Regions from separate parts of the Homo sapiens genome. Here region 2 is linked to region 1. A link means that fine-mapping ties the variant in region 1 to the expression of a gene that starts in the linked region. Tissue or cell type: tibial nerve. Region 1 holds a variant in brackets; the other region holds the start of a gene. All regions are shown on one strand. Distances are between the middles of the regions.

Region 1 (2,757 bases):
GGCATGACTGTGTATGAACCAGATGGATTAACAGAGAAGAGACAGGGGCTCGTGACCACGGGGAGAAGAAAGACGTGTTGAATAACAGGCAGGAGACTTGAGGAGTCATTGCAATCTGTCTACAGCCACAGCCATAATCAGCACCACACTCCTGGATGATAGTCTTGAAGGACACAGGATCTGTTCAAGAAGACTTGAGTTGGGTGCTTACTATTCTATGTACTTGGGATACCAACAATAGAATAAGGCACAGATTCTTTCAAGGGACCCACAGTCTGGTGAAACAGACAAACCTCAATGCATCAAGAACGATATAAGCCAAAACAGACTGCAGTTAACAGTACAACGGAGAGAGGTGATGGTCTTCCTTTGTGTAATTAACTCCCTACCTCATTTCCCTGAGGGCTTGGCTAGTGTATGCTAGCACAGTGCGAAGTGAATGTTGTGGATTGCCAGATAGAGAAATGCTAAATGACTACAAAACAGGGGCAGCAGATTCCTACTAGCCAGGATTCAATAAGCCCCAGAAAAATATGCCATTATATAGATTTATGGAGCATGGAGGATATATAGACCTTGCCTCCTACTGTTTTCCACATAGTGAGGCTAAGTGAATCCTAGTTCCTGGCTTATCCAGGGCCCTGGCCTCTCAAGGTTTCCTGTAGGACATTTGGAAATGTAGTGCTTCTCTAGGTTCAGGGCAGGGCTTGGGGAGAGTGATGAGGAGCTATTTCAGAACAGATGTCAACAGAGCCCTTCTCTCCATGCTGAGAGTCATCAAACACTTGCCCCGTGCCTGCCAGGTAGAGTGACTGAGGCCACAGGTTCCACAGCACAGACACAATGAGCTGGCCTCCTAGGGGACTCTCATGGCTACAAACAAATTAGCTTTAATGGACGAGTGGCCTTTGCTCATTCATCAGGAGTGTGGAGGTGGGAGTTCAGGCCAGTTTGGAGTTTAATTAAGGATGGCAGCTGGCATAGCAGGTCAGATGGCTCTGTGCTCCATTCATGTCACAAGTTTTTCGTTGTTTTGTTTTTCTCCAGACATTCCAGTTGCTCTGTTCCCTCCCTTACCACTGCCCACACATTGTTTTG[G/T]GTGCTGTTGGAGTGGCATGCTCTTATTTCCAAGTACAGAGAGTCCAGGCAGGGACCACACACCAGAGGTACAGAAACTAAGCTGCCAGGAAACTCTGTAAACTAGTGGCAGGTACAGTGCTCCCATTTGAGAGGCTTCCTCTCCATGCACACTATTGTCCTGTTTAAATATACCCATTCAAACCAGTAATGAAATTGTGAGCACCTGGGGACTTTCAATACCTGGACTGAAAGGACAGCTATAATCATAGCATGCCTAGTGTCCCTATTATCTATTAGTGCTTCTCCTTCAAAATGGCTGATGGCAGAGACAAGGAGAGCTCCTGTCTCCTGTCTCAAACCAGACACAGGAAGGAAAGCAAGCTGACTTAGAATTACATGATGTCATGTAAGGGCAGAATCTTTAGCATTTGGAGCTATGAGGGTTTCTGTCTTAAAGAGAATAGACTGAATATGTTATTGTAAAAGTGGGCATTAATGTTGTGACCATTTAATTTGCCAAATTAAACTTTAAAGCAGACTTTAAAGGGCCAACCATAACTGCAGACATTCTTCAATGGGAAATCTCCAAATCATTCATTCTGATGAATTGGAAGAGGAAGAAACAAGCAAACTATGGCTTTTATGCTTCCTGTTCTGGGAACATGAAATTCAGGTAGGCAGAGTGGTAGAAAAATCTCTATAAAATCTCCTGAGATGGCATCATATTTTGGAAGGCTAAGTTAGACAATATATGTTTATGGTATAAGGTCTTAAGGAAATGCTTTATCATATAATTGTATGCTATTTGTAATAATGCTGTATGTACTGTACAAACATTTCCTGGACATGAAGCTCTGCCCTGCATCACCAGCTGCCTGCTTGCTCAAGTCCCATACAAATAAGTTAATTACCTGCTTTGGGAACAGACTTTGAAAACAAAGGGAGCAACACAAAATAAAGGCGGTAATCCTCCTCTGTTACAATCTCTTCTTAGTTAATGGTTTTAATAAAAAAGGATTGGGCAAATTCCTGTATTGCCAGAATTCTAAGACTAGGTTTTTAGGATTTCTCAGCATAGAGACCTTGAGTAGAAAAGTATTTAAGTAGAAAAGTACTCCCTCAAATCCTTAGTAGAAAAGTACTTGAAAATGTACGTCACCCAGAGCCAGTAGCCTTTGGAATAGGATTGTCCATTACTGGCTTAAAACTTTAATAAAGGAAAATTGTAGGCAGGTCCAGCAGGCCGATTATCTTATTTTTGAGAATGTTGCAGTTGGGAGGGGAGGAAGAATAAACACTCAGAAATTAAAGGGAACTTAAAGATGGTCAATTCCATTATTTTTATTTTAAAACTAAATGCTGAAGTTAGAGAGGTTGTCGGAGCCTTAGTAACAGACTTGGTTTAGCTTTTAAAGTGGAGCTCCATGGAAACAGCTTTACCTGTTTTGAAGTGTTAGGCATGGCTGTCGGTAGTTTCTGGCCCTCATTCCTCATTCCTGTTGTTCTCATGGTATTGATGTTCTGCCAATATCATGTAGGAAACAAAGGATTGGTACACAGGTGATCACAAGCTGTATTCTCAAGGAAAATGGTGTGTCATTGAAATGGGATTGTAAACTCCAGAAAGGCAGTGGTTTTGCTTTGTATTTCTTTGTATCTTTTCCAATATCAAGCACT
Region 2 (2,757 bases), 190 kb before region 1:
GGAGAAGAAAAGAGTGGATGGTGGGCCATAGAGGCAAGCATGGCAGATGCCTTCTAAGAGGTGAAGGGCCACAATGTACAGATGGTTTGACTTATTCTAGGCGGGTTTCAGAAGAGGCACAAGGCCCAAGCTGAAGCCTAGAAGGTAGCAGTTTGAGTACAATACAAGAAAAAAACATTTTTCTTTGCATTTCTGATGTTCATCAGAACATATGGGACGGAAGCTCAGGAAAGAGATCTTAAGGTAGCATCAAGAGATAGATGTCGTCCACAAGGAGGCGGTATATGAAGCTGTGAAATGGCTTGGGGTTTCCAGTGTCTTCCACCATCATCAGCCCAGAATTACCACCTTCCCAGTTGCACTTCCTCCTAAATCTACATCTCTGGTGCCTTTTGCCTTGAACAGTCTCTTGCCTTGGAGCTTCTCGGCCATCAAACAGAAGGGGGCACCCTGCACCGTCAGTCAAGGCAAGGACCAATCTGGCAATCCCCAACCATGGAAAAGGACCTAAGGCTGGGTGGGATGTAGGAGCCTTCCAGGACCTGGAAGGGAGCCTCCTGTAACTACTCTCTACTCCCTTTAGAGTCCACAGGGCTGGAACTCTAAATGCAGAATAAGGTTAGGGGTGGGCAGAGAGGAAGGGTTGTGATGCCACCTGACTTCCAAATTGAGGGTGGCACAGGATCCCCCAGAAGCTCCCTGGGGTACAGAAGTCACAGCAACCCTGGACAATCCAGGGGTTTGGTAAAGTGTACTTACCAATTTTGAAGAGGGGAAGGGGTTCTCTTAAGGTGTAGAAAGGACTATCCAGGGAGTTGCAAACTTTGTTGTAAGTGGACAATCACCCTCGCTCCTCACTGCACCGTCTTCTCCTTGCCCAACAATGCACGCGGGTCCTAGCAAGGTATTCGAGTCCAGATCTCTCTCTCTCTCTCTCTCTCTCTCTCTGTCTCTGTCTCTCTCTCTTTCCTCTCTCTGTCTCTCTGTCTCTGTCTCTCTCTTTCCTCTCTCTCTCTCTCTGTCTCTGTCTCTCTCTTTCCTCTCTCTCTCTCTCTATCTCTGTCACACACACACACACACACACACACACACACACACACACACAGGCAAAGTGGGCAAAGCGGGCAAAGCGAGCAAAGCGAGAGGGTTGGTACCCAGTCTGGGCGCGCTGGAGCTAAGCAACTGGCCTTTGTTTGTGAATTGGAGCAGTTTAGGGGACATCCTCCGGTCGCCGCGGGGCGCGCGCCTCCGCTGAGTGTGCGGTGCGGTACCCAGCGGTGCGGGGGAGGCTCCACCGCGCCAGCCCAGGGCCCCCGCACCGCCCCCGCCAGCTCGACGCGCCCAGCGTTGCGCTCTCCACGGAGCGGGCGGCCGCAGCGCACTTGGCTGGGGCGAGAGGCGAGAGGGGTGGGCGGACTGCTTGGTTGGCGTTGGCGCTCTGCAGTGCAGTGGAGTGTTAGCCCAGCTCCCTATATGGTCGGGGATTAGCTTGGCGCTGCTGAGGCTGAGGCTGAGCCAGGAGCTGGAGGAGGAGGTGGAGGACGAGGACGAAAAGGAGGAGGAGAAAGAGCGCAGCAGCAGTCAGCGCACGCCGAGCGGCTGCCGGGGGAAGCAGAGGCGCCGGAGGCTGGGGCACCGCCGACGCCTCGGGAGCCATGGCCGAAGGGGGAGAAGGAGGCGAGGACGAGATCCAGTTTCTGAGGACTGTGAGTCTCCGCGGCGGGGGCGAGGCCGTGGGCAGGTGGGGAGGAGCGCGGAGCGCGGCGAGGAGGGGCTGGCTGCGCTGCGCCGCGGTGCCGGGTGCCCGGTGCCGGGCGCTTTCTCCGCACCCGCGGGCTGCAGAGGCGGACCGGCCACCTACCCGCGGGGCCGCGAGGGGCTGCGTGGGAAGGGGCACCATCTCCTGCCTCTCCCTTGTTCCCCTACCGCCACCCCTGCCCCAGGCCCTCCACCTAGGACCGCTCGCTCTCCAGGCAACTTGCTACTTGGTCTGAAACCCTTGATGCCCAAACTTCAGCCGGGGTTTGTTCGCGGTTGTCCTGACCCATAAGATCGGCGTTGGAAGCCCTCGCCCCGGGGTCGGCCCTCTGACACCTCCATACTCCACCCCAGCCCCATTCCTCTTCCAGGGCGCCCCCACGCACAGGGGAACCTCCGGGAAGGAGCCAGCGGGGCAGGGGGGAGTGTGGGGAGCCGGGTCGGAGAAGCGGGCGCAGGCGCTTGGTCCTAGCCCTGGGATCGCTCGGAGGGGAATTCACCCAGCGCTGCCCCTCTCGTGTTAAGCCCCACGCCGGCAACTGCTGCTGGAGCCTGACTTGACTGACTGCCTGTCGTGTGTTCGAGAGCTGTGGCTTCTGCTCCTGGCTCCCGCGAGCCCCGCAGGACAGGGAAACCCCAGTCAGTGGCTCCGCGTCACTCAGGTCCCCTCCTTGACACCTGAGGGCGCTGCTCCGTCCCAGATTTGGGGGTGAGGGGGCGAAGTCTGTTGCAGCCACACCAGCCTTGCCCTGTAGGAGATAATACAAAGACTTTCAGGGTGGACGGCCACCCGGAGGGGTGGGGGCATTGGGGATGCATCCTAGCGCTGACTTCAGCCAAGTGACCTTGAGCAAGTCGCATAATCCGCCCTACTCAGCCTCAGTTTCCTCATGTGTAAAATAAAATGTAACCAGCGTTTCAGGGTGATAAGGATTAAACGTTATCGTGAATGTCATAATGTTTTGTAAACGGCAAATCGCTCTGTAAATCTTAGGTAAT

Direction of the effects. Positions count from the first base shown, and alleles are read on the strand shown. Sizes are in standard deviations (SD) of each study's normalised expression.
As copies of T replace G in region 1, the expression in tibial nerve of the gene that starts at base 1,577 in region 2 goes up (small effect, 0.18 SD a copy in GTEx).

The links. PIP is the estimated chance that this variant, and not a neighbour inherited with it, causes the effect.
Region 2: it holds the start of RYR3, and the variant in region 1 is fine-mapped to the expression of RYR3 in tibial nerve (GTEx, PIP above 0.99).

The regions. Positions count from the first base shown.
Region 1 is chr15:33,499,880-33,502,636 of GRCh38, forward strand. All of the region lies in intron 2 of RYR3 (ryanodine receptor 3), which reads left to right. Among named protein-coding and RNA genes, the nearest start is that of RYR3, 190 kb to the left of the region's middle. The variant G/T (reference allele first, on the strand shown) is at 1,099.
Region 2 is chr15:33,309,391-33,312,147 of GRCh38, forward strand. It overlaps RYR3 (ryanodine receptor 3), which reads left to right and starts at 1,577. Exons shown (of 104, transcript NM_001036.6): 1 at 1,577-1,706. The coding sequence starts at 1,656. It overlaps RYR3-DT (RYR3 divergent transcript), which reads right to left and starts at 1,269. Exons shown (of 3, transcript NR_120327.1): 1 at 1,188-1,269. RefSeq lists enhancers at 1,798-2,309, 2,310-2,757.